Regions from separate parts of the Homo sapiens genome. Here regions 1 and 3 are each linked to region 2. The links come from fine-mapping of genetic effects on gene expression. A gene starts in region 2. Each other region holds a variant in brackets. All regions are shown on one strand. Distances are between the middles of the regions. Region 1 overlaps ZNF341 (zinc finger protein 341). Region 2 holds the start of CHMP4B (charged multivesicular body protein 4B). Region 3 overlaps ZNF341 (zinc finger protein 341).

What was found.
Region 1: its variant is fine-mapped to the expression of CHMP4B in whole blood (TOPMed, PIP above 0.99). The same link has a PIP of 0.9 or more in blood mononuclear cells.
Region 3: its variant is fine-mapped to the expression of CHMP4B in whole blood (TOPMed, PIP 0.99).

The regions. Positions count from the first base shown.
Region 1 is chr20:33,784,482-33,787,240 of GRCh38, forward strand. All of the region lies in intron 12 of ZNF341 (zinc finger protein 341), which reads left to right. Among named protein-coding and RNA genes, the nearest start is that of ZNF341-AS1, 25 kb to the right of the region's middle. RefSeq lists a silencer at 1,196-1,245. The variant G/T (reference allele first, on the strand shown) is at 1,197.
Region 2 is chr20:33,809,674-33,812,385 of GRCh38, forward strand. It overlaps CHMP4B (charged multivesicular body protein 4B), which reads left to right and starts at 1,675. Exons shown (of 5, transcript NM_176812.5): 1 at 1,675-1,985. The coding sequence starts at 1,796. ZNF341-AS1 (ZNF341 antisense RNA 1) reads right to left here and starts at 1,426. Exons shown (of 4, transcript NR_110623.1): 1 at 1,367-1,426. RefSeq lists enhancers at 1,350-1,644, 1,384-1,463, 2,230-2,712 and a silencer at 1,524-1,803.
Region 3 is chr20:33,775,188-33,777,946 of GRCh38, forward strand. All of the region lies in intron 10 of ZNF341 (zinc finger protein 341), which reads left to right. Among named protein-coding and RNA genes, the nearest start is that of ZNF341-AS1, 35 kb to the right of the region's middle. The variant A/G (reference allele first, on the strand shown) is at 1,259.

The sequences.
Region 1 (2,759 bases), 25 kb before region 2:
CTCTCCCCTTGCTCCTCCTTCCTCTCTCCTTCCTGGCCCCTGATCCACCTGCCTTAATTCATGAACAAGGGATTCCCACCACCGCTAAAGCAGAGAAGAGCCCCTGGAGGTTGTGTGGAAGGGACTTTTTATTCTTTTTTTTTTTTTCTTTGAGACAAAGTCTCGCTCTTGTTGCCCAGGCTGGAGTGCGGTGGCAGATCTTGGCTCACTGCAACCTCTGCCTCCCGGGTTCAAGTGATTCTCCTGCCTCAGCCTCCTGAGTAGCTGGGATTACAGGCTCCCACCACCATGTCCAGCTAGTTTTTTGTATTTTTAGTAGAAACAGGGTTTTGCCATGTTGGCCAGGCTGGTTTCGAACTCCTGACCTCAGGTGATCCTCCTGCCTCGGCCTCCCAAAGTGCTGGGATGACAGGCGTGAGGCACTGCACCCAGCCTGTGTGAGGGACTCTTGACTCTGCCCCCTGTGGTGGGGACACTGCTCTCACTGTAAGTTCCCACTCAAACCTGAACAAAACGCCATCTCCTTGGTTCCCCAGTTGAAACACACTGACATTTTCTTTTCTATTAATCTTTAGATTTTTTTATTAGTTAAATTTTTTAATTGCTTTTTAATTGAAAAGGATCTAAAGATTGAGAAAACTTGAGGGAAAATCCTTGACGGGACAAAAGCATATATAAAAAAATAAACTCCCTCTCACTTCAGATGGACAATCCAATGTTTTTCCTTTTTTTTCTTTCCTACGACCTATGGTAAAAAATACATTTCATATTGCAACCCAGGAAGCACACATAGGATGTATTGCAACAAAAGTTTTACAAAACAGTGTTTTCTATTTTGTCCTTTTCAATTTTAGTTTTTTTATTTTTTATTTTTATTTTGAGACAGGGTCTCACTCTGTCACCCAGGCTGGAGTGCAATGGTATGATCTCACTACAACCTCCGCCTCCCAGGTTCAAGCCATTCTCGTGCCTCAGCCTCCCGAGTAGCTGGGATTACAGGCGCCCACCACATGCCTGGCTAATTTCTGTATTTTCAGTAGAGACGGGGTTTCACCATGTTGGCCAAGATGGTCTCAAACTCCTGGCCTCAGGTTACCCACCCACCTTGGCCTCTCAAAGTGCTGGGATTACAGATGCAAGCCACCACACCCAGCCTATTTTTAATTCTTAAAATAACCACCAACAGGGTGTAACTT[G/T]TGGTTTGCAGTTTGCAAAATACTCCTAATTCTCTTCCCCAAAGGTAACTGTTAGCGGTCTAGTCTGCATTCTTCTAGTTTTATTTTACACATATATAAAACGCTTGCTTACGTTTGCAAAAATGAGCACATACTATAACTTATGTGCCTTTTTTTCCTTATCATATACCTTGGCGATGTTCCCCAAGGAATGTGTGCTTACAGTTCCCCTGGAGGCTAAATTCTGTGGGTCCCCCTCCCCCGGGCCCCCCCCAGAAGTTGTTACCAACAGCACCTTCTTTTTCACATCTGAGTAGTCTTCCTCAATGAATTTTTCATCTTGTATTTAGCCAGTTCTCTATGTATGAACCTTTTTTTTTTTTTTTTTTTTTTTTGAGACTGAATGGCACGATCTTGGTTCACTGCAACCTCTGCCGCCTGAGTTCAAGCAATTCTCCTGCCTTAGCCTTCCAAGTAGCTGGGATTACAGGTGTGCACCATCACGCCCAGCTAATTTTTGTATTTTTAGTAGATATGTGGTTTCACCATGTTGGCCAGGCTGGTCTCGAACTCCTGACCTCAAGTGATCCCCCCGCCCCAGCCTCCCAAAGTGCTGGGATTACAGGCATGAGCCATCACGCCCAGCCTATGTATGAACCGTTAAATTACATTTCAGCTATTAGTTTGTACACACAATGCTGTGTGGGTCCCTTGGCAAGCTTTTGGAAGTGTATCTGTAGTGTATATTCTTAGGAGTGGAAATGCTAGGTTAAAATGCATGTGTAATACTGAGTTTCAGTTTGGGATGATGAAAAAATTCTAGAGACAGATGATGGTGATGGTTGCATGATGGTGCAAATGTACTTATGCCACTGAACTATACACTTAAAAGAAGCTTAAGATGGTCAATTTTCTGTTATGTATATTTCTCCACAATAAAGAAGGGAAAAGAAGTAATGCATTGTAAGTTTGATATTACCAAATTGCTCTTTATGGCTTTTAAAAATTATTATTCAAAAGTAATACATGCTGCCAGGCGCGGTGGCTCATGCCTGTAATCTCAGCACTTTGGAAGGTGAAGGTGGGTGGAGCACCTAGGTCAAGAGTTTGAGACCAGCCTGGCCAACGTGATGAAACCCCGTCTCTACTAAAAATACAAAAATTAGCCGGGTGTGGTGGTACGCACCTGTGATCCCAGCTACTCAGGAGGCTGAGGCAGGAGAATTGCCTGAACCCAGGAGATGGAGGTTGCAGTGAGCCAAGATCAAACCACTGCACTCCAGCCTGGGCAACAGAGCAAGACTCTGTTTCAAAAAAAAAAAAAAAAATACAAAAAACGAAACAAAACAAAACAAAAAAAACCACACAAATAATACATGGTTATTATAAAAATGGAAACAATATAGGAGTACATAAAGTAAAATGTTAAATTTCCCCTTCAAGTTGTAGTTGCCACTGACACTTTGGTCTGTCCTTTCCCTACACCTCCCCATCTTTCTTCCTGCATCTTCAGTTTATTTACAGAGACACATGGCCAGGGCTTTTTTGGGGTGTGCAGGTTGTATTTTTTCTTTCTTTTTTTTT
Region 2 (2,712 bases):
GGGATTACAGGCGTGAGCCACCGCGCCCGGCTCCAGTAATTTTTTTTTTCTTTTTGAGACAGAATTTTGCTCTTTTCGCCCAGGCTGGAGTGCAATAGCACGATTTCAGTTTACTGCAACCTCTGCCTCTCAGGTTCAAGTGATTCTCCTGCCTCAGCCTCCCAAGTAGCTGGGATTACAGGCGTGCGCCACCACGCCCAGCTAATTTTTTTATTTTTATTTTTTATTTTTAGTAGAGATGGGGTTTCACCACGTTGGCCAGGCTGGTCTCAAACTCCTGACCTCAGGTGATCCATCCGCCTAGGCCTGCCAGAGTGCTGAGATTACAGGTGTGAGCCACTGTGCCCAGCCCATCCAGTAATTTTTATATTTTGCAGTCTAAACCTATTCCTAAGTCAGTGCAACCATCCATTACTTTCAGTAAGTGGCTTGGTGCCACTGGTTTTAGGAGATTCCTTGCTGAAGCCTTTATACAGGCTCAATGCTTTCTGGGGGGTAACAGGTTGCTGTCAGTTGGAACACATTTTTTGTTCGTGTCTTCCACGTATAAGCTTAATGCTTTTTCTTTTCTTTTGTAAAAAAATTTATTTTCTTTTTTTCCCCTGTAAGTAAGGATACAACTTAATGCCTTTTCTATCTTAACTAAGCACTTATCACACACTGTGGCTGTAACTTTTGCAGTTTGAGGTACGACAGCAAAACCAGCATGAATTTCTTTTTCCTCTTTCACAATTCTAGGGCTAGAAGATTCGTTCTTACTGCAGACCTCAGTAAGCTCAGCATACGATTTTTTTTCTTAAGCTCAGAACTTCCACATTTACATTTAAAGGAAGCACTTTACAGCTTCATTTTGGCATATCCAAACTGCCAGCATTACTACTCTTGCACTTTGGGGCCATTATATAGTAAAATGAGGGTTACTCGAACCAAAGCACTGCAACACCGTGGCAGTCCATCTGATAACTCCTAAGCTGGTAAGTAACTAACAGATGGTAGAGGTATGTTGGACAAAGGGATGATTCACATTGCAGGTAGGATGGAACAGGATAGCACGAGATTTCATTAGGCCAATGGAAATTAAAAACTTATGAACTGTTTATTTCTGGAATTTTCTATTTAATACTGTCAGACCTTAGCTGGCCAAGTGAAACTACTCAAAGTAAAATCTCAGATAAGGGGGACACTACCGTACTTAACTGGAGAAGATACTGCTTTGCTTCTGTGACCACAGAATTGACAGGTTGAAATTGGAAACAACTGTTGCCTTCACGCTTTTAAGACAACTTCACATGAATATACATGTGAAGTTCAAGCATGGCAGTATCCCATACTAGCAATAAATTTTTGAGCAGTGTTGCACACTTACTGTCATTTCTCTTACTGTTCTGCCACTCCTACAGAGCGCAGGCCAAGGAGACTACATTTCCCAGAATGCCACACGCCCTTTGACCCCAGCTACAGCAAAAGACGCGCCGGGGAGCGCCTGAAGCCGGAAGACTATAGCTTCCCGGCATGCAGCACGCTTCCCCCTATTAGATTTGAGGCGCGGCCGGCGCGTTGCCCACTGGGAGTTGTAGTCAGTGGCGCGTTGCCCTGACGCCTGCCGGGCCGGGCGTGGGGGCCTGTGGGAGGTGGCGCGGCCGGGCCCAGCTGCGGGGCGGAGGCGGAGGCGGAGGAGAGGCCTGCGGCGGCAGGGAGCGGCGGGACTGGGAGCGGGCGCCGGAGCCGACCCGAGCCGAGCCGAGCCGAGCCGAGCCGGAGCGGGCGGCGAAGGCCGGCGCGGCGAGCAGCAACCATGTCGGTGTTCGGGAAGCTGTTCGGGGCTGGAGGGGGTAAGGCCGGCAAGGGCGGCCCGACCCCCCAGGAGGCCATCCAGCGGCTGCGGGACACGGAAGAGATGTTAAGCAAGAAACAGGAGTTCCTGGAGAAGAAAATCGAGCAGGAGCTGACGGCCGCCAAGAAGCACGGCACCAAAAACAAGCGCGGTGAGGCTGCCCGGCCCCTTCAGACTTGCCACGGGCTCCCCCCAGGCTCCCCGGGCCCGGACTTCACCTTCATCAGACTCGCCTCGGGGTCTGGTCTGACCCTGGAACTCTCCGGGTCAGACTTCTTGCCGGGTCTGGGACCCCCTCCCCGACTCCCTTCAATGTCTCCCCGATCCCTGGACTTTTCCATCGTCAGACTTATTCTGCCCTCTCCCCTCAGCCTCTCTCCACCCCGCCAGGTCCCTTCAGACCCCAATCTCACAGCACTTTCCTCCGCCCTCACTCTGTCCCTTTCTCTTCCGCCTTTTCCTTCTCGCCTCACCCACCTGCCTAGCTACTGCCCCTGCCTCCTCCTCGGCTCATTTCTGCCCCCATCCTAGCATTTCTGTGCTTCCTGGTCCTACCTGTGCCCTCTCCCGACTCCTCGGTGGAATCTGTGAGCTGCCCCTTGGCCTCTCCCCTGTCCTCTTGTCTCAGAATTCTCGTTGAAAAGCCTCCTTGCTGGAGAGAAAAGGGGACTGGGGGAGATGAGACCCCCGATTCCTGCTCTATTCACTTGCTGAGTGAACTTGAGCAAGTTGCTTTCCCTTTGAGGCCTCAGTTTCCCCATCCGTCAGCCAGAGTTCGGCCTCTGTTGAGGCCTAAGGTGTTTTCCAGCGTTGTGATTCACTTTTTGTTGCCTCGTAGCTTGACCTTACCAAAGTTTCCCGTGGCGCAAGCCTTCACC
Region 3 (2,759 bases), 34 kb before region 2:
GCAGGTCAGAGTTGAAAGGGTTTTGTTTTTTTTTTTTTTTGAGATGGAGTCTCGCTCTGTTGCCCAGGCTGGAGTGCAATGGCAGGATCTCAGCTCACTACAACCTTCGCCTCCCAGGTTCAAGTGATTCTCCTGCCTCAGCCTTTCTAGTAGCTGCGACTACAAGGCACCTGCCACCATGCCCCGCTAATTTTTTGTATTTTTAGTAGAGACGGGGTTTCACCATGTTAGCCAGGATGGTCTCGATCCCTGACCTCGTGATCTACCCACCTCGGCCTCCCAAAGTGCTAGGATTACAGGTGTGAGCCACCGTGCCCGGCCTTTTTTTTTTTTTTTTAAAGATTAATTATCTACTTCAAAAACTATATGTATACAGTGCAATATTGTAAAACTATCACAGGACATAGAGTGAACAGGAATTCTCCATCCACTGTGACCCACTTCCCCATATCACGGGCAATCATGTTCGAAAAGTGTTCTTTGTAAACCTCTTATTTTGTCATAATTTTATTATTGATTGATTGATTTTTGAGACAGGATCTTGCTCAGTCACCCAGGCTGGAGTACAGTGGCACAATCATGGCTTGCTGTAGCCTTGACTTCCCTGGCTCAAACAATCCATCCCCCTCAGCCTCCTGAGTAGCTGGGACTACAGGTGTGTGCCACCACTGCCAGCTAATTTTGGTATTTTTTGTAGAGACAGGGTCTTGCTATATTGCCCAGGCTGGCCTAGAACTCCAAGGCTCAAGCAATCCACCCTCCTCAGCCTCCCAAAGTACTAGGATTACAGGCATAAGCCACCATGCCTGGCCTTCAATATATGTGTTTTAAAGCTTTCCTTTGTTTCATGAATTTAACTTATGTATGTATTTTAATTTTAATATAATTAATTAATTAATTTTTTGTTTAGAGACAGGGTCTCACTCCATCACCAAGGCTGGAAAGCAGTGGCATGATCATGGCTCACTGCAGCCTTGACCCTTGACCTCCCCAGTCTCAGGTGATTCTCCCACCTCAGCCTCCTGGGTAGCTGGGACTACAAGCATGCACCACCATGCCCATCTGATTTTTTTTTTTAAACTTTTTGTAGAAACAGGGTTTCGCCATATTGCTCAGGCTTGTCTCAAATTCCTGGGCTCAAGTGATCCTCCTACCTTGGCCTCCCAAAGTGCTGGGATTACAGGCATGAGCCACTGCACCTGGCCTTTTTTTTTTTTTGAGACAGGATCTCACTCTGTCACCCAGGCTAGAGCACAGT[A/G]GCATGATCACAGCTCACTGCAGCCTTCGCCTCCGGGGCTCAAGCAATCCTCCAGCTCAGCCTCCTGAGTAGCTGGGACCACAGGTGTGTGCCACCAGGCCTGGCTAATTTTTTATTTTTTATAAAGATGGAATTTCACCATGTTGACCAGACTGGTCTGGAACTCCTGGGCTCAAGCGGTCCACCTGCCTTGTTCTCCCAAAGGTCTGGGATTATAGGCGTGAGCCACACACCTGGCCAATTTTTATTTTTTTAGAGACAGAGTCTCACTGTGTTGTCCAGTCTAGAGTGCATCAGCTATTCACAGGTGTGGTCGCCTTGCCTCAGCCTCCCCAGTAGCTAGGACTACAGGCAGGCGCCATCACTCCTAGGTAAATTTGTTTGTTTGTTTGTTTGTAGAGACAGGGTCTTACTGTGTTGCCCAGGCTGGTCTTGAACTCCTGGCCTCAAGTGATCCTCCTGCCTGGCCTTCCCAAAGTGCTGGGATTACAGGCGTAAGCCATCACACCTGGCCTGTATTTCCTAAAAACAAGGATAACCTCTTCCATAAGGGCAATATACTATAGTTACCAAAATCAGGAAGTTGGGCTCTGTGCGGTGGCTCATGCCTGTAATCCCAGCACTTTGGGAGGCTGAGGTAGACAGATTGCTTGAGCCCAGAAGTTTGAGACCAACCTGGACTACGTGGCAAAACCCCGTCTTTACCAAAAAAAAAAAAAAAAAAAAAAAGAGGTGGGTATGGTAGCATATGCCTGTGGTCTCAGCTGCTCAGGAGGCTGAGGCAGAAGAATTGCTTTAGCCCGGGAGGTACAGGTTGCAGTGAGCTGAGATCGCACCACTGCACTCCCGCCTGAAGGACAGAGTGAGACCCTATCTCAAAAAAAAAAAAAAAAAAAAAAAAAAATCAGGCCAGGTGCGGTGGCTCACACCTGTAATCCCAACACTTTGGGAGGCTGAGGTGGGCGGATCACCTGAAGTCAGGAGTTCGAGACCAGCCTGGCCAACATGGCGAAATGCCGTATCTACTAAATTATAAAAATTAGCTGGGTGTGGTGGCGGGCACCTGTATTCCCAGTTACTTGGGAGGCTGAGGCAGGAGAATCCCTTGAACCTGGGAGACGGAAGTTGCAGTGAGCCGAGATCGGGCCACTGCACTCCAGCCTGGGTGACAGAGCGAGACTCTTGTCTCAAAAAAAAAAAAAAAGAAGAAAAAGAAATCAGGAAGTTAATATCAGTACAATTCTATTATCTAATTACAGGCCTTACTCAGAATTTTCCAATTGTTCCAATAACATGCTTTAGAGAAAAAGAAAAAAAAGGTTTTTTTGAACCAGAATCACATGTTGAATTCAGTTGTCATGTCTCTCTCGTCTCTCTTGTGTCCTATAAGCTGGAACAGTTCCTCCTTCTGTCTTTGTCTTCGAGACCTTGATATTTCTGAAGAGTATAGACAGGTTATTCTGTAGAATGTCCTCAGTTTGGGTTTGCCTGATTTTACCCT